4 linked regions of the Homo sapiens genome follow. The protein of the gene in region 4 binds, or shares a complex with, the protein of the main gene of each other region. Each region holds a gene or a part of one and is shown on either strand. Other genes may lie near its edges.

What was found.
Region 1: PIGH (region 4) and PIGQ share a complex: the UniProt entries of both Homo sapiens proteins name them as parts of the glycosylphosphatidylinositol-N-acetylglucosaminyltransferase (GPI-GnT) complex.
Region 2: PIGH (region 4) and PIGY share a complex: the UniProt entries of both Homo sapiens proteins name them as parts of the glycosylphosphatidylinositol-N-acetylglucosaminyltransferase (GPI-GnT) complex.
Region 3: PIGH (region 4) and PIGC share a complex: the UniProt entries of both Homo sapiens proteins name them as parts of the glycosylphosphatidylinositol-N-acetylglucosaminyltransferase (GPI-GnT) complex.

What each region holds. Positions count from the first base shown.
Region 1 is NC_000016.10:579,939-584,609, forward strand, and holds the end of PIGQ (phosphatidylinositol N-acetylglucosaminyltransferase subunit Q), read left to right. Parts: intron 1-244; coding exon 245-325; intron 326-919; coding exon 920-1,034; intron 1,035-2,309; coding exon 2,310-2,371; intron 2,372-2,944; coding exon 2,945-3,097; coding exon of another isoform or gene 3,098-3,696; 3' UTR 3,697-4,171; downstream 4,172-4,671. UniProt on the Homo sapiens protein: Part of the glycosylphosphatidylinositol-N-acetylglucosaminyltransferase (GPI-GnT) complex that catalyzes the transfer of N-acetylglucosamine from UDP-N-acetylglucosamine to phosphatidylinositol and participates in the first step of GPI biosynthesis.
Region 2 is NC_000004.12:88,520,764-88,527,837, forward strand, and holds PIGY (phosphatidylinositol N-acetylglucosaminyltransferase subunit Y), read right to left. Parts: upstream 3,014-7,074; 5' UTR 2,938-3,013; coding exon of another isoform or gene 2,735-2,937; intron 1,267-2,734; coding exon of another isoform or gene 1,125-1,266; 5' UTR 1,027-1,124; coding exon 811-1,026; 3' UTR 235-810; downstream 1-234. Other genes in the region: PYURF (protein preY, mitochondrial precursor), read right to left, coding at 1,125-1,266, 2,735-2,937. UniProt on the Homo sapiens protein: Part of the glycosylphosphatidylinositol-N-acetylglucosaminyltransferase (GPI-GnT) complex that catalyzes the transfer of N-acetylglucosamine from UDP-N-acetylglucosamine to phosphatidylinositol and participates in the first step of GPI biosynthesis.
Region 3 is NC_000001.11:172,441,049-172,448,787, forward strand, and holds PIGC (phosphatidylinositol N-acetylglucosaminyltransferase subunit C), read right to left. Parts: upstream 3,022-7,739; 5' UTR 2,940-3,021; intron 1,806-2,939; exon of another isoform or gene 1,783-1,805; 5' UTR 1,575-1,782; coding exon 681-1,574; 3' UTR 409-680; downstream 1-408. Other genes in the region: uncharacterized protein C1orf105, read left to right, coding at 4,025-4,110, 7,393-7,483. UniProt on the Homo sapiens protein: Part of the glycosylphosphatidylinositol-N-acetylglucosaminyltransferase (GPI-GnT) complex that catalyzes the transfer of N-acetylglucosamine from UDP-N-acetylglucosamine to phosphatidylinositol and participates in the first step of GPI biosynthesis.
Region 4 is NC_000014.9:67,590,267-67,597,295, reverse strand, and holds part of PIGH (phosphatidylinositol N-acetylglucosaminyltransferase subunit H), read left to right. Parts: intron 1-3,343; coding exon 3,344-3,553; intron 3,554-4,577; coding exon 4,578-4,661; intron 4,662-4,859; coding exon of another isoform or gene 4,860-4,981; intron 4,982-7,029. UniProt on the Homo sapiens protein: Part of the glycosylphosphatidylinositol-N-acetylglucosaminyltransferase (GPI-GnT) complex that catalyzes the transfer of N-acetylglucosamine from UDP-N-acetylglucosamine to phosphatidylinositol and participates in the first step of GPI biosynthesis.

The sequences.
Region 1 (4,671 bases), on a different chromosome or scaffold from region 4:
TGTGTGGCCACGCACCGTCTTGGGTGGTCTGGCCCCCACCTGTCTCCCTGCGAGTCCCCTAGTCCGTGGGGTGTGGGTGGACAGCCCTCCTGCTACTGGGACTGCTTCTGAGCAGGCCATCCCGAGTTCCCTCAGGAAGCCGCAAGGTCCCGACTGCAGCTCCGGGATGGGGGAGGGCACAGTGCTGGGCCGTCCCTGGGCGCGGGGTCCTGCTGATGCCCGGTGTGCTGGCCCCTCCCTACAGCTGTTCATCGGGACTCTGCTCTTCACCATCCTGCTCTTCCTCCTGCCTACCACAGCCCTGTACTACCTGGTGTTCACCCTGGTGAGCTGAGCACCCACAGGCTGGGCCTGGCTGCAGTGCTCTGTGTGGCTTCTGCCAGCGCTGCCTGGGAGCAGTCAGCTGTGGGGCGGGCTGTCTCCTGCTGCAGGCCACGTGGGTGGCCTTTCAGGACCCTCTGGGCAGTGAGTGCTGCGCTCTGGAGTGGGCGAGGCCCTATCCTGGCCAGTAAGACACCCTCACTGCCCTGGAGCACGCAGCTGGGTGCGTGGTGGAAGGACCCCACGGCAGGTGGGGTCACGCAAGAGGCCTCCCCTGGTGCCTGGCACTGGGGCAGACAGTGGGAGGTGAGCAGAACCACCTCCAGCACCTGCTTGATTCCCAGGCCTCGATCCCCTCTGCATGTGAGGCTGTGGGGAGGCACCTCTGACCTGGTGAGAGGGCCGGGTGCTCCGCCTCCAGCTTTGCTCCAGAGCAAGGCCCAATGGCAGACTCCGTGCCCTGCTCAGGGTGGGGTCCCTGCTCTCCCCAGGACCCTGCAGCCTCTGGGCCCCCTTCATCGTGGCCCAGGATGGGGTCGGACTGCTCTGCCCCCAGGCGCGTCTGGCCGGGCCGGTCCTAAATGCTCCTCTGCCACAGCTCCGGCTCCTGGTGGTCGCCGTGCAGGGCCTGATCCATCTGCTCGTGGACCTCATCAACTCCCTGCCGCTGTACTCACTGGGTCTTCGGCTCTGCCGGCCCTACAGGCTGGCGGGTAAGTGCTGCGTATTGGGCAGCTGGCCCTGGGTAGGTGGAGGGGAACCACACCTGTGGGCCCTGCAGAAGCAAGGACAGCATGGGCCACTGTGCCTCCAGCCTGGAAGCCGTGGTATGCATGCGCAAGCGGGCAGGGAGGACAGGGCCTCCTAGTCCCAGAGGTCTGCAGGACCAGCTGCCTCCAGGGAGGTGGAGAGAGACTCAGAGACTCACCTGCCGCGCAGGTTCAGAACCCTGGAGACCTGAGGCCACAGGCCTTTGTTCTTCTGCCTTGGGATTTTCTGGGCTTGGGAGTCTGAACTGCAGGCCAGGGGCCAAGCGCGGCAAAGTCAGAGGCACTAGGAGCCAGCAGGGCGGCCACCATCCAGTAAGTGCCCCGTCCGCTGTGCCGGAAAACCCCGTCCACTCAACAGCACAGCCTGCGCCCGTCCCTCACTGGGGCTCTTCCCTGCTTGCCGGACACCTGGCTTCTTTCAGTGGAGTCTGCAGGAGGCTTTTTTTTTTTTGAGACGGAGTCTCACTTTGTCGCCCAGGCTGGAGTGCAATGGCGCAATCTCGGCTCACTGTAATCTCTGCCTCCTGGGTTCAAGCGATTCTCCTGCCTCAGCCTCCCGAGTAGCTAGGATTACAGGTGTGTGCCACCACGCCCAGCTAATTTTTTGTATTTTAGTAGAGATGGGGGTTTCACCATTTTGGCCACGCTGGTCTCGAACTCCTGACCTCGTGATCCTCCCACCTCAGCCTCCCAAAGTGCTGGGATTACAGGCACGAGCCACCGTGCCCGGCTTTTTTTTTTTTTTTTTTTTGAGATGGAGTCTTGCTCTTTTTGCCCAGGCTGGAGTGCAATGGTGTGATCTCAGCTCACTGCAACCTTCGCCTCCCTGGTTGAAGCGATTCTCCTGCCTCAGCCTCCCAAGTAGCTGAGATTACAGGCACACGCCATCACACCCGGCTAATTTTTGTATTTTTAGTACGTATGGGGTTTCACCATGTTGGCCAGGCTGGTCTTGAACTCCTGACCTCATGATCCGCCCACCTCCCAAAATGCTGGGATTACAGGCGTGAGCCACCGTGCCTGGCTGCAGGAGGCTTTGATGCCGGCCTGGCAGCCAGCTCCAGGAGTTGGGCGACGGAGGGGGCGGGGAGAGCTTCGTGGGTGGCCACGGCCAGCAGCACCCGGGTGCCCCTCAGAGAGGAAGGTACCTGCAGCCTCTGCTCATGTGTGGGGCCAGCCCCCACGCGTCCCCTCGTCAGCCGCTTGCTATCCTTGCAGCTGGCGTGAAGTTCCGTGTCCTCCGGCACGAGGCCGGCAGGCCCCTCCGCCTCCTGATGCAGGTGAGGCCCCTTGTGGCCAGGACGCCCCTACGCTGCTGCCCCTGTTCTGGGACGGTGGGGTCAGCTGGGTGTAGTGTCTGGGTGGCACCACGCCAGCCTGCGATGAGGTACAGGGAGGGCCCAGTGGAGCTGAGGGGGAAGGCCCACGCGGGACCCCCTCCCCCTTACCCCCAGGGCCTGAGGACACTGGTGTGGTCCTGTGGATGGGGCCCATTCTGCCCTGTGTCGGAGGCGCCCTTGGCTGGCTGGGGCTGCCCTGGGCCCCACAGGGCTCAAGTTCTGGGTGGAACAGAACCGACTGAGTGAGTCCTGGGGTGGGGTGTGCGTCCCTGTGGCACGGCCCCTCAGAGTTGGGCAGCCCCGAGGGGAGATGCAGCTTCTGCCTCCCCCCAGCGCTCCCTTCTGGCTGCAGGCTCACTTGCCTCCTTGGGAACTGGGACTGGCTTCTCCCACAGGCAAGGGAATGTCTGAGACAGCACTGGCCCTGCCTCACAACTGCCCGCCCCCACCCTCTCTCTGCAGACGGGGTTGGAGCTCAGACCACCCCACTGACCGCTGCCCTTGTCCTTCCAGATAAACCCACTGCCCTACAGCCGCGTGGTGCACACCTACCGCCTCCCCAGCTGTGGCTGCCACCCCAAGCACTCCTGGGGCGCCCTGTGCCGCAAGCTGTTCCTTGGGGAGCTCATCTACCCCTGGAGGCAGAGAGGGGACAAGCAGGACTGAGGGAACTGCTGGCTCGCCTGGCACCACCACACGGCCACAGCCAGCCATCTGCTCTGCCAGGGTGGCACCAGCTCAGCTGGCGCATGTCCTGTGCTTTGTGGACGCTGCTGTGTGCTCCTGAACACGGCAGGCCCTGCTATCACACCTTGGGCTTGGAGGTCATTGGGAGTGAGCAGATGTGGGGGTGGCCAGCCAGGCTGGCCGCACTCCATCACTGGCACTGCCTGCCTTGGGACCCGCTTCCCACCTGCTGCGGTCACCATGGTGGCGAGCACAGCAACCCCAGGTGTCCAGAGCACTGCCCCATGCCCACCCTGTGTACCCAGGTCCAGAGGGTCCGTCCACCACAGCAGCCCCAGGTGGAGGGCTGGTCTCCCTGGGGGCTCCCCAGTGGCTCTGCCCTGGCTGTGGGGGTGGAGGGACCTTGCCAGGATGAACCCCCCAGTCCCAGGCACCCTCTAGCTCCCTCAGCCGAACAGCACCCTGCATCTGGGGGATTGAAGCAGTCGCTGACCCCCGTCCCCAGCGGGCCCGGGCCCTCACTCCCTGAACCACACGGGGTTTATTTGCGGATGTTCCCTGGAGAGGTCGCTTTGTGAAGAAACCATCAGCAGGCTGTGAGCATCGCCAGGCTGCTGTGGGGGCGGGAGCAGCCTCAGTGTCAAGGGCCCGCCCACTGACCCAGCCGTACCTATTCGTCCACGGTGCCCCGTAGCAGCAGGTCCTGCGGCCAAATCTGTCTCCCTTCATGGGCCTCCCAGGGAAGGAGGAAGCCCTGCTGTGCAGACACCTCTGTGGCCCCCCAGGAGTGTGAGTGGCCTGGGGAGGGGGCCGTGGCACTGAGGCCGAAAGTGCCTGCCAGACGGCACGGTCTGGGTGCGGGTGTTCCCTGTGAGCCCGAGTCCGCTTCAGGAGGGGAGCCTGCAGGTGCCGGCTGGTGAGGGGATGACGCGCTGTGGGTGGGAGGAGGCAGCGCCCATCTCAGCAGCACCAGGACTGCCTGGGACTCCCTGGCAACCCAGCACCGGGGAAGCCGTCAGCTGCTGTGACAATAAAACCTGCCCCGTGTCTGGAGCGCAGGCTCGGTCCCGGGTCCATGTGCAGCGCGGGTCCAGGGAAGCTCTGGGGGGGGGGTGTGTGGACGCTACTCGAGGGACTTGGGCTGCCTCACGTGGGTCTGCCCTGCAGAGTCTACACCGGCCTCCTGCTGGAGGCCCTGACGACGGCTGATGGGACGGGCTCACAGGCCCTGGGCCCTTGAGGACTTTGGTGTAGGCAGGTGAACCCGGGCCGCCCACCCTGGGGGCCGCCCACCCTGGGGTCGTGGCCTTGCCTCGACATAGATGGTGCAGGGGTGTAGGCCTCCAGGGGTGGGGCGAGCAGCTCCTGCTCTGAATCTGTGGACTCCATGTGGGGTGGGCCCCTCGTGGGTCCTGGCCCAGTACAGCCTGCGACTGCCACAGCTGCTAAGAATGGTCTCTGTCGCCTGCAGTGCTGGGGGCCCAGCTGGCGGGCCCCACAGCCCGTTCCCAGCCCGAAGTGTACAGGCCTCCATCCAACCTGGACTTCCAGGC
Region 2 (7,074 bases), on a different chromosome or scaffold from region 4:
TTATTCGGCATCCTGGGAAAATAAACTGAAATGTGGCTCAAATATGGCTCTAAGCTCAACAGGGTACAATCCACTACTTGCAAGTCTTCCCACCCCTCACTTTCCCAGGAAATGATTCTGTTTTGGGTATTAAGTACCTCTCTAAACACAACTACATTTAGTGCAGTTTTACAACTTCCCTTAGTATCATTAACACTTCTGTGACCAAACAAACAAACGACTACTGCAAACTGGTTTATTTTTTATAGGAAAGTGTCAACATGTTTATTGCTAATATAAGCATTTAATGTCAAAGAAATGAAGGTAATTTTACAAACTCAGTTTTTGTAAGTACATGAAGTTTCTATTTGATTATGTGGTTTTATATCACATTCGTTCAAATGCATTTCTCTCCCTTAGAGGGACTATTCCAACATCACTCCTTTGGAATTATTTCAGTCATCCTTAACATGTGACTTTACCAAAGACCTTGAAGCTAAACAAACAAGCAAAACAAAATTTCAATGACTCTTAGATGAATGGAATAAGAAATAGTCATCACATGTCAATTAGGGATGTTCATCTCCAACCAAGACACTGTCAAAATGTTTCTTCTGATACAGCAGTTATAAGTCAGAGCCTTCAAAAAACAAGGGCAGAACAAGAGTACAATAAAAGAAGCATCTGCAACTTAAGCCTCCCACAGTCCTAAGCCTGATATGCGCAAAGCAAAGCCTCTTTCCCGCAAACTAAATTCCATCCATTTGAGCTTTCAGAGATCGATGCCCAAGAGCTATCATTAATATATACAGCATATTGACTCTAGTTGCATCAATTATGCCTGAAGAGTTTAATACCCATCCAAGTCCAAAGGTGGAAGAATACATACACTGGTATGGTAATAGGCAAGAGCAGGCTGTAAAAGCAAAGGCTGGCTGTGCTAGTGCAGCCCTGTGGGAAGTTTTCTTCCACAGAGGCTGAGTAGAACAGTCCTGCTAAAGAAACCAGTGGAATAAGAACAGTCAACGTAGGAAGAGACAGAAACATTCTTCTCTTCCACTTATTACCTGCCACTGTGTTTTAAAAGGTATATGGTATTAAGAAAAGTTGGCTGTTGCGTTTTTTTAATTTTTTTAAATTATGAACTAGCGCTGCTCCACTTCTTCTTGCTTCTTACTTTGACGTGTCATCCTAGCTGCCTGTGGTATCATATTAGGGATCCCATCAATGATTGGATAAGCTATTCCCAACTCTTCATTAATCAATTCGTTTGTTGATGCTTCATATCTGAGGTGGAAAAAAAAAGAACAAAATGAGTTGTGGGAAAATAAAATGCTTGAAGAGCCTGATTTTCAACAAATACCACCATTTATCCAATTTTTGGTACGGAGTTAATCCCAGAATAGTCTTCTTTAATTCTAAAAGCAACAATAGCCAATTCAACCTTTTATCTTAGAAAAATTCTCTTACAATCTATAATTATTCCCATTTTAGTAGTTTCTCTCATATTCTCTTTTTCACCTTATTCACAAGTTATTCCTTAATTTTTTTTCATACTAGTCAGAAAAGATCCCCCTCTCTTATCCAAATATTCCTTCATTACTTTGGTCAACCCCCAAACCATCCCTGTTAATTTACTACTGGAATAAACACTAGAGAAAAATCAACTTCTTCATTTTAGAATAAATGCTAAGTAGAGAAACTTAACTAATCCATTAGAAGGAAATCACTGGAAAAGGTGAGAGGGCAGAAATGAAGAAACTTTCGAAAGCACTAAGTCTGCAGTGAGCTAGTTATAAACGTAAATCAAATGATAATTTCAAGGTTCGAGAAAATTGAATAATATGTTTATTACGGGAAAAAGAAATACGAAAAATTGCTAGCAATCTACCATTCAAAGATAACCACTGATAACATTTTGGTGTTTATGCGATTTGTAATACTAGCGTTAGTGTTGTCAATATTCAATTTTGGTAGCTTGGAAACTGTAGAGCTGTCTTCCCAAAAACTAGTTAAAGAGGCTTCTACGAAACCTGCTAGGCCACAACTAAGAGCCACTGGGCAGCAAACACAGCTGAATTGCTTAAGATTGTCAGGCACCAGTTGTACAAGACACTTTCACAAGAATCTGGAGGGTACAACAATACTTTTCATTATCTTGGCTTAAAAACCGGAAGGCTTCGGACTTGTCCTGAATCGCAGTGGTTCATAAACCTGGTGGTACATTAGAAATCATTTAGGGACCGTTTAAGAACACAGATAAGCTGGGCGTGGGGGCGGCGCCTGTCTCTCGACTCCTGAGGAGGCTGAGGCGGGAGTTCTAGGCCAGTCTGGGCAACGTAGGGGGCACCCTGTCTCTTAAAAGGAAAAAAAAAAAGGAAAAGAAAATACAAATGTTCAGGTCCCATCCCGCGAGCATTCCAAGTCTGCCCGTCTTGGGGGCTGTCGGGGAATCGGCATTTTTAAAACGGTCCCCGGGTGATTGCAATGCGCAGCCGGTCGCGAACCCTAAAACGCTTCGAGCCATTCCCGCAGGCTGGCGTTGCGTTCTGGGAGATGTGGGACGCAGCTCCCCTGGCCTCCGGTCTCCCCCGTCCTGCCCGCTGTGCGCCCGGCGAGGACAGAGTCCAGAATGTGGCAGCGGAGAGTACCTGACCGACCTACAAGGCCCCAGTGGCTGCAAGAGGCCGCGGTCCACCGCTCCCTTTCCGCCCACCGGGAGGCTGCAAAGGAAGGGCCAAGGCCAGCGAGTTACCTGAGCGGCTTCTTGGAGAGCGGGCACACCAGGAACTCCAGCAGCGCCGGATCGAAGTCGCGGGGCGGCTCCTCAGTCTTCTTGCCCCGGTCGGCCAAAGGCCGCGACCCCGACGCGTGCAGGCACCTACGGGCGACCGCGGACGGCGGCGCGCGCGTTCCCCGCAGCGCTGAGGCGAGCCTGCAGCGTGCTCCACTCAGCATGGTCTGGCAGCCGGAGACCAGGCCTCACCGCAGCCTCGCCACCCGTGGCCGAGCTCCCGGCTTCCCGTTCGTCCAGGCCAGCCGGGCAGGCCCCGCCCCCTGGTCCTCCAGGAAACGCTGCCGAGGAGTAGGCGGGGCGGGCGCTTTGGTTCCGAGGGTGCTTCTGCTCCGACTGCTTTTCCCACGGGCGTCATCTATAGTCCGGAGGACAGCCCCAGGGCAGAGGCCTCTGGTGAGTGCCCCGCCGCCTTACCAGACTACAAACTAAACCAGTGTTTAAGTCAAGGTGTCTGGGTTTTCACCGGGGCCTGTCCAAGGATGCTAGGAAGCCAGTGGCCAGGCCTCAGAGTTGTAGGGAGTTAGGCTTGGACCTACGTGGTTACCTCCAAGTGAAGTTTCAAACACACTGTTATGTATTGTACCGAATGTATTGTCATGGATGTATTGAAAGCGCTCATTTGTTTCATGTACATCTTTACTATACCATTAGTTTCTGTAACCTTGTTTGGCTTTTTTCTCTCTCATTAAAAAAAGTGAGAACCTGGAAGGAAGGGCCTAGGCCTCTGACCCTCCAAAATATATAAATTCTTCCTGCCTGAGACCCAGTCATTGTGAAGTATTTGCGTAATAAAGCACAGCTAATTTACTTCTATAAATGAGCTTGGAGGCCGCAAGGGGCCTAAATAGCTGTGTAACAGGCAGATGTGATCTGCCTGTTAAAGATCCATTCAATGAGTGGGTGATCCATTCAGTGAATTTGTATCCCAGGTTTGCTTCCCACTCTCCAAGAAAGTGACCATGTTAGATCTCTTTCTTACAGTGTAGTAGATGGGAACTTGGGCTCTGGGGCCTGACAGCTTGGTTCCCTGTCCACAATTAGTAGCTGGATGACTTTGGCAAATGACTTAACTGCTCATTTTCCTTATCTGTATAAGACTAATAATTGTACCTACCTTGTAGGTAGGGCATAAATGTGATTGTGCATTCGAAGAACATTTAGAAAAGTGCCTGGCACAAATTAATGCTCCATTAATGTTGTCTATTTTTATTTTTAGTTCATCTAGTTTTTCCATGTCCGAAGACTCAAAGATTCTCATTAGTCATCCATTTTTTCCCTCCGTTCTGCTGAATATCAACCTGAACTTTTTTTTTGCATCACTGGGCATTATCATTTCACACTTTGAGTTCCTGGAGCTGGAAGTACAGAATCCAAAAATATGTTTATATTTTCAAATTTCTCTTCCACTCCAATGTAAAAATAAACTGACAAATGTTTATATGTTCATCCTAATTTTTTGTTTGTTTTTTGGGCCATCCTGTTTTTTTTAAAAAAAACAGTTTATTTTTTGATGTTCTTTGTTCACTAATGCTCAGAAGATTTTCTAAGGTTAATGTAGTTTATAGGATACCAAAAAGGAAACACTTCTACTGGATAGATATTTAAGAGATAATGAAAGTCTCTGGTTGCCTCACCTTCCTTCCCTCACAAAGCAATCTTTCACAGTCATAACTTTCCGTTATTAGAGTTACTAACGGACTAGAGAATAGGGCAGTTATCGGGACATACCCTCAAGGGAAACTACTGTAAAGTTCCTATGTCACCTTCACACTATTTCCGACTAGGGCAGTAGCAGGAATTAATTTTTCAGTTGAAGTCAGTTGATACTTTGGGCTCAAGGGAAGGGGTGAGCTGTAGGAAAGATAAGTTTCTGCTTAAGGAGAAACAGCGCTTGACTTCTGCAAGCGCTGAGTGGGCCCAACCCTTGGCGCTTGTTGGGTAGGGGAAGGCACCCATGCTTAAGCCTCAGCTAGCTTGGCTGACAGATCTCTATCAACTGGGTTTTCTAACCAGTTATAAATAAATTAGTTTCAGTTTGCCTCCACATAGAGGGTTTGAGGCAGTTCAGTTTACTTTATTTAGGGGAAGAATAGAGAGTAACAGCAAAGTATTGAAAACATCCTCAAATTTATAACACCAGAAATCAACAACCAATATTTAAGGAACATATGAATGTATGACTATCACCATGTGTGTATTAAGTTGCAACATATCAAAGCAATATGTCCCTAAATAGCCCTTAGTAATGAAGAAATACAATTCATTTCTGCCTGTAGTATACTAAGCTAAATGTAGATGATAGGATAGGATCATGGGACTGGAACTGGTCTTTTAAAAGTTAGTCCCTTTTCACTATTCACATGACTGACCTTTCGTGTCACATAGGCCTGTGCACAATAACCTGATGGTTTCTGGGCTCAGATACAATATAGCTGTGTGATCTTGGAGAAGCTACTTAAGTTCTCACCCTCAACCTTCTCACTTGTGAAATACAATAATAATAGTATGTAACTTACAGTGTTTGAACAGACTAAATAAAACAATTCAAGTAAAACAGCACAGGGGCTAACACATTTAAAGAATGTTTAGCAATAAAATTATTTATTATGGTGAAACTAGTAAACATTCTGATGGAAAGGGAAAGCACAAGGTACTTCTGGGACACTCTTTTTAACTGAAATGGAATTTTTCTAATTTCCAATATGGATACTATTGAAACACAATTCTTGGATTATCACACACATGAAGTTAGAAATCTCTAGGCAGAAGAGGGGCTGGACTATGTATTTTAACAGAGCCTGTCAATTCCAAATTTGGGGGCATTGAAATTTGTGAACCTGCAATCCAAAGAAATGAGTCAAAATAAATTTTCCACTAGATGGCATCATTTAGTATTTGAACTAACATTTATCTCTGCTTGATCTTTTCTTTCTGTGATTACAAAGACTTACTTTCATTTTGCCAATTGTTTCTTAGTTTGACAACACTTATTTTTTATTTTTATTTTATTTTCTTGAGACAGATTCTCTCTGTGTCATCCAGGCTGGAGTACAGTGGTGCAGTCGTGACTCACTGCAGCCTTGACCTCCCAGACTCAAGCAATCCTGGCATGTCAGCCTCCAGGTAGCTGGGAATACAGGTGCATGCCACCACACCCAGCTAATTTTTGTATTTTTTGTAGAGATGGTGTTTCATGTTGCCCAGGCTGGTCTGGAACTCCTGAGCTCAAGCAGTCCACCCACCTTGGCCTCCCAAAGTGCTAGGATTACAGGCATAAGCCACTGTGCCCAGCCCAACATTTATTTTAAAAACAAAAATCATAAAAGTCCTATTAATAAATTTTAATGATGAGTTTATTAAAATCAAGTTTCCAATAGATAAATGGACAAAATATTTGAAAAGAAAAATTCGCAAAAAAGAAAATACAGTTGGTCAATAAACATATTAAAAAATTATCCTCAATAGTAAAGTAGTAATGCTAGTTTCAAACATCAAAGGAGTTTTGAAATAACTCTAGACATGAATGTTACCAGCCTTGTTTTGGCCATCTGAAGGATAATCACAAATTCTGTCTGAAGGGCTGAGGACTAGTGCCTGCAAAAGGACCAGAATATCCCAGCATGGGCACAAGTAGCTTGAAATTATGGAAGTATGTCCTGTCTTTCTTTCTTTTCTTTCTTTCTTTCTTACTCTCTCTCACTTTCTCTCTTTCTTTCTTTTTTTTTTTTTTGAGACAGGATCTTGCTCTATCTCCCAGGCTGGAGTGCAGTGGCTCCATCATAGCTGACTGCAGCCTTCACCTTCTGAGCTCAAACAATCCTCCCACCTCAGCTTCCTGAGTAGCTGGGACCATAGGCACACACATGCACCACCACACCTGGCTAATTTCTAAAATTTTTTTTGTAAAGTCAGGGTCTCACTATGTTGCCCAGGCTGGTCTTGAACTCCTGGGCTCAAGTGATCCTCCCGCCTCAGCCTCCCAAAGTCCTGGGATTACAGGCGTGAGCTACCACGCACAGCCCAACTTGCTCTTTTGGTTCTGTGGCTGCTGCAGTTATGGGGATGTACCCGCTGATCCACAACAGTTTGGGAGTGCTCTTCCATAAGCTCCCCTCCCTCATGCCGGGCAATGTGCTTGTCATCGTGGTCTCCATTATCACGGTGGTTGCCTTCCTGGGCTGCATAGGTTCTGTCAAGAAAAACAGGTGCCTGCTTATGTCCTTGTTCATTCTGCTGCCGGTTATCCTCCTTGCTGAGGTGATCTTGGCCATCCTGCACTTTGTTTACGAACGGAAGCT
Region 3 (7,739 bases), on a different chromosome or scaffold from region 4:
GTCCTCCAAGACTAAGCTTAAATGTCACCGCCTCTCTTATTTCCTAATTATTCCAGCTGAAATTTATCTCCAGCTTCTGAATTCCCCCTAGCATTCTGCTTATTGTGACACATCACACTCTGCTTTGCAATTAGTTGTGATATGCTTCCCTAAGAACAAGGTAGAAACTCTGAGTCAAGGTTAAGTAACCAATTCTGTGATCTTGGGCAACAAAACTGAGCATAGCACCCTGTGTTCTAAGATTTGAGCCCTAGATAAATAAAAGAGCATTAGCACATTGAAAAGGGTAGAAAGAAGTGACTTTACACACACACACACACACACACACACACACACACACACACTTACTTCACTCTTCATGCCCCTCTGTCTGCCTCCTGTTTATGGAAAAATCATGAGACAACTTGATGGATGTGTTATTTTTTTAATAGAAACCACATCACTTCATATGTTACAGCATGTAATTCAAGAGGTCCCCAGAAAGTTTTTTCATCTACAAAATAACAGAAAGGATAAGCACCCTCACCACCCAAGCCTTTGGTTCATTTTTTTTGGTTTTGATCTCTATTCTCTTACCACAATGACATGCTGCTTCCAGAATGGAACTCTGTCTTTAAGTTCTATACTAGTTAGGAGGCTAATCTATCAGCTTGCTTTAATAATGTAATGGATGTCCTAATTTAACTGAGGAACCTGGACAAGTCTTCCTTGATTTCAGCTTCATCCCAAGGCCCATGAATGTTTTCTTTAAAAAGCTGCAAGCGAATGAGGTAGAATGGACACAGACATGAGATAGACATCAGCAGAAGGGCAAAGAGTACGGCTCCCACAGCACTAATGGACAGTAGGCCTCCCACGGCTGAAAATGCAAAAAGCAGTGTGACCCCCACATAGCTCCGGGGAGTACATGCCTTTAGTTTCTTCTGCAACATGGGCCACAGGGCAAAAATCTGAATGGCAAATGTCACCATGATGAAGGCATGCAGGGACCGGGGAAGACGTGATGCCAAGCATACAGAAGCAAAGATGGCCATGTTCAAGGATAGTGTGCTGGATACAATGGCAGCATTGGCACCATAGTCAAAAAAGATGAGATGGCCTAACAGCATGAAGACTGACATGGCATAGATGGTGTCAGTGCTGACAGACTCTGTAAGGGTCTTCAGCACTGGTGAAAACCCATAAGTGAAAGTAATGAAGACTAGGGCACTCTTCAGGTCAGCCCACCGGGTCTGCCCACTCTTCTTCCGCCCTTCACCTCCATCAATGAGATCAAACAAAACATACCCAATCAGTGAAGAAGCCAGACCAGTCCCTAAAAGCCAATGGGGGGCCAGAAGACCCTCATCCATATACCACCAGATAACCACAAAAACACAAACACTGCACAGCTGCTGGATCACCACACTGGACTCAAATACCACAGCCCAATATTGGTATTTCCGAGCATGGATGTTTTTCCGGAGCTCTTCCAGGAATCGCCGGTCCACATAGTTATCAGGAAAGGGCTGTCGCTCATACAAGACCTTCTGCCACTTGACCTCCTTGGTGTTAGTCACAGGTTGAGCATACATTATCCTTTCATTCAAACTCAGGCCAGTTTAATCATCGCCCTCACAGAAGTCCAGGTGGTTCTTGTTCTTTATGAAGTTTTGAAATGAGACCTCCCTGGAAATTCCATGCTGTGTTGATGTTCTACCAACCTTTCCTTGTTTTCAAAGGCAGGGGCTAGGCCTACAATAGATGAATTTGTCTCTGAGGCAGGACAACACAGCCAAGTTCCTAGAAAAAGAGAGACTGTGAACCTACGAAAGTTGTGAAAGGTCAAGAGTAGTACTGAGATAAAGTCAAATCAACTCAGTTTACTAAAAGTCTGAGAAAAATGTATGTGGTAGTCACCTTATGGGACATTAAAACTGCATTTCAGATTTGAAAATTATAATTCCTTGAATAATAATAGACATCTGTTAGCTATCGCTTATTGAGTACCTACTATGTGCTAAGTGCCTTATGTATCTTCTTTCACTTAATCCTCACCACCTTGTAAGTTAGTATTAGTCCTGCTTTGGTAAAAAAGCTGAGATTCAAGATGCTTAAGTAACTTTGCCCTAAGGTAACAGAGCAGAGCCAGGATTCAAACCAAAGTCTTATCCCAAAGCCTGTGTCTCACATTGTATCTCCCTCTAAAGCAGTTCTTAACTCAGTGGTTCACATATCCCTTAGGTATATCACATTGCATGCTTATATCTGGATTTGTGTAAATTTATAGGGATAATATCCATAGTTTTTATTGGTTCTCAAAGGCATGTTATTTGTATTTTTTAAGTTACCAATCCAAAGACAATAGTAAGCTGCACCATACAGAAAGGTATGAGCTCTATAGTTTAACCAAAATCAAAGCCTCAAAGAAACTAGACTCTTCTTCCATTAGCTGAGCTTAGCATCCTTTAAAGAGCTATCAATCTACTCAAAACAAGGAAACTCTTGAGAGGATCGAAGAAGATAATCATTCCTTTTTCACAATGAGAAAACTAAGAGTCAGAAACACCACAGCCATCCGGCAAATTTGAGAAAAAAAAAATTCATATTGCCCGACTTTATTTCTTCCATGATAGACCACAACAAATATTGCTTGGCAAGCCAGACACCGTTACCCCCTCTGCAGCAGGGATCCCAGCCCGGGAATCTTAAGGCCGCCGCCGGGGTTGGAGGGTCTGCGACGCCCAAAAGGGCAGCGCCCGCCCGCAGAGTGGGGCTGGGAGGGGACGGGGTAGGGTAGGGTGACCCCAGGGTGCGCCTTCACTCTTCTGGCACCCCATTTGGCTTTTTGGGTGGGCCTCCCACTTCCGCCGCCGCCCCTCACTCAGCCTTGGGTCTGCGGGAGGCAGCAGAGGAAAAGGAGCCCCGGAAACACTGACCGTTACACGGAACCCACCTACCCGAGAGTTCCTAGGGTTGCGCAGCTGGGGGACGGCGGCACCCAGCCTTTTTCCCGCTTCGGGGCGCCGGGGCTGCGACTGTGGCCAAGCACTTCCGGGTCCGCCGCAATCTCCTTAGCGAGGGCACCCTTCCCCGGCTGGAACCATCGCGACGTGACTGCTGCCCCCTCCTGGCTGCTCGAAGGACCTCCGGTCTCCTCTCCTGGAGACTGGCCCAAACCCGAATGCTCTGAGCCTAGGAAGGCAAATCCCCAGCAATCCCCTATTGAAAGATGGGATGTGCCATCTGAAGGACTGGGTAAGGCAAGAGAGGACAAGGAAAGAGGCTGGGCCAGTAGGTGAGAGATAATGGCCGCTTTTGTTGCGCTCCTTTATTAAGTCAGGCCCTCAGCTGGGACTTCCCGTGCATCCATGCGTTCATTCCACAGATACTGATTGAATGCCTGCATGTAACAAGCCATGCTTGGGGTGCTCATGATACAGCCGTGAATGAAACACACAAAAATTGCTGCTCTCATGAAACTCTCTTTTTTGGTGCATTGACCTTTACACTGATTATATCATCTCCCCCCTCAAAGAGGACAAATCTAAGGCTCAGATAAGTTGTATTTGTCCAAAGACAGGCACCTGGGAAGTAGATGAACAGAGATCAATATCCAGTTGTCTATAGCTTCAAAGCTTGGTTTTTTTCCTCTTTACCTCCTAAAAGAAGTGAGGACAAGATTGCTAATTAAACTGAGTTCATGGAAATATTAAAGGATATATAAACAGAAGGAAGTAATAAAGAAACAAAGGGATGTAGTAAAACACAGGATACAGTGGAAATAAAAGTCAGAAAACATGACCCATTTACTAGCTCAGTGACTCAAGGCAAATCACACTACCTGAGCTTTGATTTCTTCATCAGTAAAATGGAGATGACATTATTTGCACTTGGCTACTTTATAGGATGGTTAAAGAGTTAAATATAAAAATGGTTTGTAAAGTGTTCACTATATGGCTGCTATTAGCTGACTTTGGCCATCGTAATGATAGCAATGTTTAAGTGTGATATATTCTGTAAAATGTTCTCTATTTCCCTCTAGGCTTCTGTTCCAAAATTTGACAAGATTCCTTGGCTTAGTGAGGCCAGCCTTGTAAACAAGCCATTAGTGCTCAGCCTTCCCAGAAGGTAACCTCTCAGCCACCGAGGGCAAAAGTTTTACGAAACATCTCACAGAAGATGATTTCTTCTTAAGGGATGGGGACAATTATCAGAGGGCACATTTGATCCATTGAGAAACTCAAGTCAAGTGCTTTAAAAATAGAAATAATCCGGGTTTCTCAGAAAAAAATGATCACTGAGTATAGGCCTGGCTAGAGGAGATGAGATCTCAAAATTTTTCCCTCTCCACCACTACCACTCAACAGTATAAGATAATTTTTCCCCTAGACACTGTCTCTCAAAACACTTCCATCCTCTTTCTCACCCCACATTTTCTCCACTGCTGTAGTCTGAAATTTTCACATTTTTACCATCAAAAGTCTAGAACAGTAAGTTCCCATCTTTATAGAATAGTAACTCTGTATGTAACTTTGAGGCACCCTCCTACATTCCTGTTAGTCCTACTCCTTCCAAACAAACTACTATATGACACATAAATCTATTTTTCAAAATTGCAGGAATTACATATCTAGGGAGCATTTCAACTGTCTCTTGAAATAATTGGGTTACCGTGTCCCTTCTCCATTTTTGATGAAATGGTTCCTAAGTGTAGTGATAAACCCCACTCTGGGAAGGGGACATGGACAGAAGGGTAGGTGTGAGGTAGTGTTGGGGTGAATGAGAGAAACCAGAAAGAGGGCAGAGAGAAAGAGAAAGGGCAGGCATAGAGGCCATTCCAAAGGCACACGACAGACTAAAAAGGAATGACTCCTTGGCATTCGAAACAGCTCGTTAGAAAAGCCAGACTCCCCAAAAAGAGTTTCTCCTCCTGTTGATAACTACCATGTACCCTCCTGCCCATGGATAAGTGACTTCATAAGCAAATTCCCATCACTGTCTCCACATCCCCACTTTAGTAACATGTACCTTTGCTTTGTCTACTGTACATTAAAAAAAAATCTCATTCTCAGTAAATAGGTAGACGGTTTTAGTATTTTCAGAACAAAATTCACAAGTGCTTTCAAGTGCTCGTTATTCAGTTGTGTTATTTTTACATAATTTTGAATATAACGAAAGCAGATTATCAGAGGTTCAATAAACTCAAAGGCCTATTTAAGAAACAAAAGTACTAAGTGATAGAGTGCTTATTAAGAGTTGTTAACACTGCATGGATCAGCACGAGTAAGGACAGTCTAGCATATTTTAATTGAGGGTGGGACACAAACTCACAGGCCCATGACAGTCAGATGAGGGGCATAATGAGTAAAGCTGGCCAAACAGGACTGCAATGAATGGGAAATCACCTCCCCGCTTCAGCCCACCCCCACGCCAGCAGTGTTACCTGCAGGCATGTGAGTCCAGAGGCCAGATCCACTGGGTCTTCTAACAGTACTAGAAATCTGGATGTTTTATGTGAAATTGCTAGTGTTTGATCTAATAGGGTAATATCCCACCATCCCATACTACCCCCATGCCCATTAGACCTGCCCCAGCAGCGAAGAGCAAAGTATCCTTGTGCATGGCTCTCTTGCCCCCAGCTCCCTTGGTCTCTAATTACACAAGCCTTTGGCAGAGGGTGGAGATCAGGGAGAAGGGTAGGCCTAGAATACAACTGGGCATCGGCAGCACCTGTTCACTTTCATAGCCAGGTCCTGGAGGGTCAGAGCAGACAGTCTGTTGACAGCCAACTGGAAAGGGAGTGGGCAGTTTTTCCTCCAGCCAGCCAAACCTAAGCTAGGCACAAGGAGAAATTACCTTAGGCAGGCAGTGAAGCTCTACTCATCGCTATTCTGGGAGGATTGGGGTAGCAATCTTAATTCTTGTTTAGAAAAATGTAATATACCTACCTCACAACAAAGGTGACCGAACAGCACCTTTGAGGTGCCCTGAGCTCTCAGGAGGACAAGACGGGAATGAAAAGTCTTTTGAAAGGATGGTTTAAGTATCAAAAGATCTTAAGGATTAAAAGCTCCTCATGTGGGCCAAAGCTCCGGGTTCCAAGCTGTTTATTTTTGGCAAAGCCCCTTACTGAGACTTTGGGAGAAAGTTCTCAATGTGCCTTAAGCATTACATACCCTTGAGCAAAGAGTTCTAATGCAGAACAGTCTGAAAAAAGATAAAGGAACATTTAGCCAAATATGCTCAGAGTAATTCCAAGTGTGCGCAATGGAAACACACCTACAGGGTTGGAGGAGGTGAGGCTGGGCTGTAATAAGAAGTGCCTGTACTGACCCACTTCCTTCAAGGACTCTCTCAGGTAGGCCTGACAATTTCAAAGCCACACTCATCGTCAGTCTCCAAAGCCCTTCAAGTCACACTAAGGTCATGTTTATATAAGATTATTGTATGCTGAAGGAGTTCTAAACTGGCCTCCTGGTCTCTGCTGGTCAGCATTTGGGTGACAAGTCCAAGAGAGCCTATTCCCATATCAAAGACAAAGACCCCGAGGGCACTCATGTCAGACCCACCATCTCTGGTCTTACAGGGCCCAGGGAAGTGTGAGGAGAAATGAAGCAAGAAATGTCTCATGAGCATCAAACTCCTTTCACATGCCTTTGTTTTAAATAAACAATGGACAATGAAATCTTCCCTCATTAGAGAGGAGGTGTGTTCCCGGCAAAACTGCCAGCATTCTGAGTTTCTATTTCTTGGATGCCAGGGGCATGAATGGTGCAACACACACAGTTTATGATTATCAGGCCCCTGCAGGCCTTGGCCCCTTACACTGTAATGAAATGAACCACAGTGCCAAGTGAGACAGAGCGCAGGCAGGTCACCCTGTAAAAGGAACTGGTGTTCTTGCAACATCACTGCTTCAACTGCTAACTAGAAAGAAAAAATGTTCCAAAGGAAAAGAATGGGTGAAGGGAGAAGACATTCTGTGGGAGGAAACAGGTGGATTGTTTCAGGGTGCAAGGACACAAACTCCAAGAAGTCAGCCCAGGTACGAAAGGGGACAGGTGCAGGTTAAACATCAAAAACTTGAGTGCAGACCCTTTCAAAGAGGAAACCTGGGATTCATTTCGCTCATTACACATCTACTGTTGTGAACAATCTTTATCCTGCCTTGTTTGTACAGTGTCTGACAATCCAAAATTGGTTAGTGCAAAACAAAAGGGACAGAAAAGCCAAAGTGACATAGGAGGGCAAATCCATCTTTTGGGAGCTCCCCAATGGCCTGAGTGCTCCAGAACTGGAGTGGAAGATAGCTCCCTGTGGTGTCCCTTGTATTCTCTCAGAAACAACCAAGGGCCTGGCTCTTCAAACATGGGACTGCGGTTCTAACGTTCTCTTGTTTTAATTACTTAGATATCCTCATACCTCTGCGACTTTTCTGACTTCATCCAAGAAGAATATGAATTTGCCAATTTTGTTTCAAGTTCCAGATGTTTTATCTAAGGTACTAAAAAATTTTTGTTGAAATGAAACCAACAGCAGTTCTAGAATGACATAGAATATGAATACATGTCCCATCTCCTTAGCACAGCCCTGTGCTTGGTACACCATCAATGTTCAATAAATATTTGTTAAATGAAATGAATGGCCCCACCCCCCTCACTATGTCTCAAGTGCCTTAGGGTCCCAGTCCACTAGAACTAAGAATACAGGCATAAGGTTAGAATCAACAAAACAGGAAACTAAAAATTAGTATGGAG
Region 4 (7,029 bases):
AGGTTGCCCAGGCTGGTCTTGAACTCCTGGCCTCAAGCGATCCCCCCATGTTGGCCTCCCAAAGTGTTGGGATTATAGGCATGAGCCACCATGCCTGGCCCAAACATTTTCATTAAAAGACTAGATAGTAAATATAGCAGGTTCTGTGGGGTCTGTCTCATAATATTCTTTTCTTTCTTTCTACAACCCTGTAAAAACTTAAAAATCATTCTTTGCTTGAGATGGGCCAGACAAAACCAGACCACAGGCCCAAATAGTTTACAGATCCCTGATCTAACACTATGGGTTAACTATGAAAAAGTAGAAAGAGACCATCAAAGAAAACCAGAGCTAGTGAGTAGTTGAAGTGGTACAAAAACCAGATGTTATTCAGGAACTATTACAGTAGGGGAAAAGAGACTTCAGTATAGACTTCCAAATTTCCTCAGTTCCGAATATAGCATGGACAAGTGGAGATTTATAGCCAAGGAGCAAGGTGGGAGTCAGTGGATGGAAAATTACCCAAAGGAAACATCAGGGGCAAGGTGGGATTCTGGCTAAATTGACTTGACAGGATTCTTGCTGAAGGCATGCCAGGCTGATCAAATACCAAGGGTGGGAGTTCTTTCTAAACTGATTCAGCAAGATTCTTGCTACAATTGGGTGGGTAGTGCAGGCCCAACAAAGATGTCAAGGTCAGGGCCTAGACAGCTTAGAGGAACCTGACTAGAAGTAGATAAAGGAGGGCATCTTGTCAGTGCAAAGAATAATAAGACACTTCCTGCCCTCAAGGAATGCAGTCCAAAATTACAAAATTTCTTTGATTCTAGGTCATCAATAATTTTTTTCCTGTGCCAGTCTTCTAAATCATAGCTTTGCCGGGTGCGGTGGCTCACACCTGGAATCCCAGCACTTTGGGAGGCTGAGGCGGGTGGATTGCCTGAGGTCAGGAGTTCGAGACCAGCCAGGCCAACATAGTGAAACCCCATCTCTACTAAAAAAAAAAAAAAAAAAAAAAAAATTAGCTGGGCGTGGTGGCGGGTGCCTGTAATCCCAGCTACTAGGGAGGCTGAGGCAGGAGAATCACTTGAACCCGGGAGGTGGAGGTTGCAGTGAACCGAGATCACACCATTGCACTCCAGCCAGGGAAACGAGTGAAATTCTGTCTCGAATCAATGAATGAATGCAAGCTTCTGGGAAAAAAGATAAAACAATGCCACATGAAAGAAACACACACCAATAGGAAAACACATTTTAACTTCAGAAATGTTAAAGATTATACATTGGTCTTAGAATCAAGGGAATAAATAATAGACACCATTTTTTGAGCCCTTAACACATCACTTAGTCAACTGTAAGTAACACAGAACAACTAAAATAGCCTTAAGAGATAAGGACCTTTTATATTAACAAGAAGTCATAAGGTAGGAGGGCTCCAGAGTTCACGTGGAGACTCATTTGATTCCGGCTCTTGTCATCTTACTGCTGACACCCTTAGTGTGCCCTACTTGTCCTCCACCTGGTCCTCCAAGTGCAGAAACTGCACTTCCACCCTTAGCGTCCTCTAGTTGTCCTCTACTAGCTCTCCACTGGGTCTGGCAGAGGCCATAGTAGTTCCAGGTATCTAAACCTCATGATGAAGGGAACGTCTCTTCTGCAGATTTTTAAAGATAAACTCAAGTTTTCCAGAAGCCCCTCCAGCAGATCTCCCCTCACATTTCATTGGCCAGAGTTGTGTCACATGCCAATTTTTAAAGCAGTCATTGGCAGAAGGAGTGGGAACCAATCATGGTTCACTCACTGTTCAATTGGGGCTGGTGGGTGGCTGTTTATTAGGCAAGCCATAGTATCTGCTACACTGTGCTAAGCACTTTATAATTGTTCAGTCTATGATTTTGCACTATATACAGATGGTTCCCAACTTACGATGGTTTGACTTAGGATTTTTTTGACTTTAGGATGATGCGGAAACAATACAAAGTCAGTAGGAACGGTACTTCAAGTAGGAACGGTACTTCAAGTACCCATACAAACATTGTTTTTCACTTTAAGTATAGCATTGAATAAATTATATGAGATTTACCACACGTTACTGTAAAATCAGATTTTATGTTACATGATTTGCCCAACTGTAGGCTAATGTAAGTGTTCTTTTTTATTTTTTTTATTTTTATTTTTTTTAGACGGAGTCTCGCTCTGTCACCCAGGCTGGAGTGCAGTGGCGCGATCTCGGCTCACTGCAAGCTCCACCTCCTGGGTTCACGCCATTCTCCTGCCTCAGCCTCCCGAGTAGCTGGGACTACAGGTGCCTGCCACTACGCCCGGCTAACTTTTAGTATTTTTAGTAGAGACGGGGTTTCACCGTGGTCTCGATCTCCTGACCTCGTGATCCGCCCGCCTCGGCCTCCCAAAGTGCTGGGATTACAGGCGTGAGCCACCGCGCCCGGCCTAATGTAAGTGTTCTGAGCACGTTTAAGGTAGGCTAGGCTAAGCTCTGATGCTTGATAGGTATATTAAATGCATTTTTTAATTTTAATTTTTTATTTGAGTGCTAGAACTAAATATTAAATGCATTTTCATCTTATAATGGGTTTATCAGGACATAACTCCCTCCTGTATTCTGCTGAGGGAGTGTGAAAGGAAAAGATTTGGGGTCCTTTTTTTTTTTGAGATGTCTCACTCTGTCATCAGGCTGGAGTGCAGTGGTGCGATCTCGGCTCACTGCAACCTCCGCCTCCGCCTCCCAGGTTCAAGCGATTCTCCTGCCTCAGCCTCCAGAGTAGCTGGGACTAGAGGCACGTGCCAACACGCCCAGCTACTTTTTGTATTTTTAGTAGTGATGGGGTTTCACCATGTTGGCCAGGATGGTCTCGATCTCTTGACCTTGTGATCCACCTGCCTTGGCCTCCCAAAGTGCTAGGAGTACAGGCGTGAGCCACCTCACTCGGCTGGGTCCTTTCGATTTTTAGAGACAGTGTCTTATGCTGGTACCCAAGCTAGAGTGCAGTTCTATGATCATAGCTCACTGCAGCCTCGAACTCCTGGGCTCAAACGATCCTCCTGCCTCAGCCTCCCTAGTAGCTGGAATTACAGGTGCAAGCTACTGCGTTCAGCTGATTTAGGCCCTAAAGTTGGAATTTTGGAAGAAAAATTTCTGAGATTGCTGTGATGGACATTTTGCTGATGGAGGTTTCCCCTAGACCTATCCATTTGTTGTCTGGATCTGTTTCACTGTATACTTTCATAGCACCTTAGAACCCAAATAAAAGCAATTTCCTTTTCCTCCATGCATGTTCCCCTCATTGCCTGGAGTTGACTGGTACCACTTGGTAATCTTACTGTCTGTGTCTGGCTCTCTCTTCAGAACAGCATGATCCTCTCTGCTGCCATCTTCATCACCCTCTTAGGTCTGCTTGGTTATCTCCATTTTGTGAAGATTGATCAGGAGACTCTGTTAATCATTGATTCCCTTGGCATTCAGATGACTTCATCTTATGCTTCAGGCAAAGAAAGCACTACCTTCATAGAAATGGGCAAGGTCAAGGATATTGTCATCAATGAGGCCATTTACATGGTAAGTATTTAAAAGGTAAGTATTACAGGCCTCTCTGGAGGAGGTAGCCAGCCCATGGGATGTTCCCAGATTTAAACTAAAACCGTAAAAGTGAGACTTATATTTAAAAGGTAAATCTCTTTATTTTTAAAGAGATGCAGCAGGTTTTCATGGATAGGGAATTAGCATTTCAACTTTATCTTCAAGACCAACTTCAAAATTATCACTGGCATTTTTTCCTTCTCTTTCTATCTTTTTTCTTTTTTTTTTTTTGAGACAGGGTCTCACTCTGTTGCCCAGGCTGGAGTGCAGTGGCTCGATCACAGCTCACTGCAGCCTCAACTTCCCAGGCTCAAGCCATTCTCCCACCTCAGCCTCCTGAGTAGCTGGGACTACAGGCATGCACCACCATGCTTGGCTCGTTTTTTCTATGTTTTGCAGAGATGCAGTCTCACTATGTTGCCTAGGCTGGTCTTGAATTCCTGGGCTCAAGCCATCCTCCTGCTGTGGCCTCCCCAAGTGTTCAGTTTACAGGTTTGAGCCACTACGCCTGGCCCTGTCTTTTTTCATTTAAAGAATGAGAATATACTTTTCTTCCACTTCAAAAGCTATCAAGTGTTCTACTACTTAAACATTTGTGAAAAAGTGTTGAGCCTTCCCTTAGAAAAATAGAATGTGGCCAGGTGTGGTGGCTCACGCCTGTAATCCCAGCACTTTGGGAGGCCAAGGCAGGCGGATCACCTAAGGTCGGGAGTTCCAGACCAGCCTGACCAACATGGTGAAACCCCATCTCTACTAAAAATACAAAAAATTAGCCGGGCATGGTGGCGAGCGCCTGTAATCCCAGCTACTTGGGAGGCTGAGGCAGGAGAATCGCTTGAACCTGGGAGGTAGAGGTTGCAGTGAGCCGAGATTGCGCCACTGCACTGCAGCTTGGGCAACAGAGAGAGACTCTGTCTCAAAAATAAATAAATAAAGGAAAAAGAAAAAAAGAATGCAAAATGAGTTTCACTTAGACTTTGCTATTTGATTTATTTTCTTACAGCAGAAGGTGATTTACTACCTCTGCATCTTATTGAAAGATCCAGTGGAACCACATGGGATATCCCAAGTAGTACCCGTCTTCCAGGTGAGCATAGAATACTTTTACCATTCTCCAATTACTCCTCAACCTTTTCATTAGGAATGTAAATTCCTTTTGTCAGAGTATTGGAAGATACCTGACAGCTGTTTTGAGTGATAATTAGGATTTCAGTTATTTGAGAAGTTCCTCTCTGAGGCAAATGTATTCCTTAAAAATATTCATGCACATTTTATTTTATTTTAGAGACAGAGTCTCACTTTGTCACCTAGGCTGGAGTGCAGTGACAATCACCACTCATTGCAGCCTCCACCTCCCAGGCTCAAGAAATCCTCCTGCCTCAGCCTCCTGAGAACTTGGGACTACAGGTGTGCACCATCTCGCCTGGCTAATTTTTTTTTTTTATTTTTAGTAGAGATGAGGTCTTGCCATGTTGCCTAGGCTGATCTTGAACTCCTGAGTTCAAGCAATTCTCCTGCCTCAGCCTCCCAAAGTGTTGGGATTACAAGCATGAGCCAGCATACCTGGCCTCATGCACATTTTAAAGAACACAATCAAATATATAGCAACTTCTGCCTATAAATCACCATTCATCTACTTTGACTCTGTCAGTCTACTACTGTACACTTTTTTTAGATAGAGGTAATTGATCTTACATTGTACACTATTGTGTGTCTTGCTTTGTAAATAATTTAATATGTATGTATCCTACAAAGGCCATTATATTTATTATTTTAAATAATTGTATAATATATTGAAATATCAGTTTATTTAGCCACTCTTGCCAGCTTTTAAAATCATGCCTGGGTTTTTTTGTTTTGCTCTTACAAAAAAAAAAAAACACTTATCAGCTGGTGCAGTGGCTCATGCCTGTAATCCCAACACTGTGGGGGAGGCTGAGGCAGGCAGATCACTTGAGCTCAGGAGTTCGAGACCAGCCTGGGCAACATGGTAAAACCCCCATCTCTACAAAAAATACCAAAATTAGCTGAGCATGGTGGTGCACATCTGTGGTCCCAGCTACTGGGGAAGCTGAGGTGGGAGGATTGCTTGAGCCCAGGAGGTCAAGGCTGCAGTGAGCTTTGATCATGGCACTGTATTCAGCCTGGGTGACAAGAGACCCCATCTCAAAAAACAAAAATTATACAAACATAATAAATTACAAAATAATAAATTTAGAGGTAGGTATTTATGCATGTATTTATGTATACAGTTAACCCTGCCTCACTGACCTTTTTCACAAAGGATTTAAGATAAGCCAAAAATTATTTTGCATTGTAATTCAAAATTATTTTATTAAAGCTTATGAATAGTTTTATAGATTTCTAGTGTTTAAGATCGGGCTCCAGAGATTGGACAACTTTATCATACTTTGGGGATTTTGTACTTCTTTTTCTACCATCCTGGCTAATAGTGGATTTAGCTTTTTTAGCTTAATATGTAGGTAAAGGCATTAAATTTGTATCTCTTTAAATGATAGGCTTTTCATATTTCCTTGTATTACCTATCAGTATTTCCTCTTACTTTAAACTACCTATCTTCTCTATTAGTCAAGTAGAATCTGAATATTATGTATTTGTATCTATTTTTATATATTTTTAACAATTCTTTATATATTTTAGGTAGTGCACTTTTATTAAATATACTTTCACATATATTTTTTCCATTCTGTGGCTTTTCTTTTAATTTTGGTTATTACATTTCATTGTGTAAAACATTTTTCAATATTTACATATTAAACTGCACTTCTTGTGTTTGAGGGCTGTTTTACAACTTGTGACATTTCTCAAGGGTCCATTTTGTTTTTCCTCTTGCTTATTCTTAGAGATGGAGTTCATGAAATTTAGACAGATTAAAAAGCTATCATTTGATCTCCCACCTCGCATAGTTCACAAGCTGTGCTGTAAGCCTAGCTGGGACTCTTTCCAGCAAGGTGTGCTGAGGCCTAAACTTCTTAACTCCATGAGCTCACTGCTGTGTCATTTATACCCCTTGATGTGGGTGAGAGATTGAAGTTGCATGTGGTCCCGGCACCATGGCTCAAGCCTGTAATCCCAGCACTTTGGGAAGCCGAGGTGGGCAGATCACTTAAGGCCAGGAGTTCAAGAGCAGCCTGGCCAACATGGTGAAACCCTGTCTCTACTAAAAATACAAAAATTAGTTGGGCATGGTGGTTCGTGCCTGTAGTCCTAGCTACTTGGGAGGCTGAGGCACAAGAATCATTTGAACCCGGGATGCAGAGGTTTCAGTGAGCCGAGATTGTGCCACTGGGCGTGGTGGCGAGCACCTGTAATCCCAGCTACTCGGGAGGCTGAAGCAGGAGAATCACTTGAACCTGGGAGGCGGAGGTTGCAGTGAGCCGAGATTGCGCCACTGCACTCCAGCCTGGGCAACAGAGCAAAACTCTGTCTCAAAA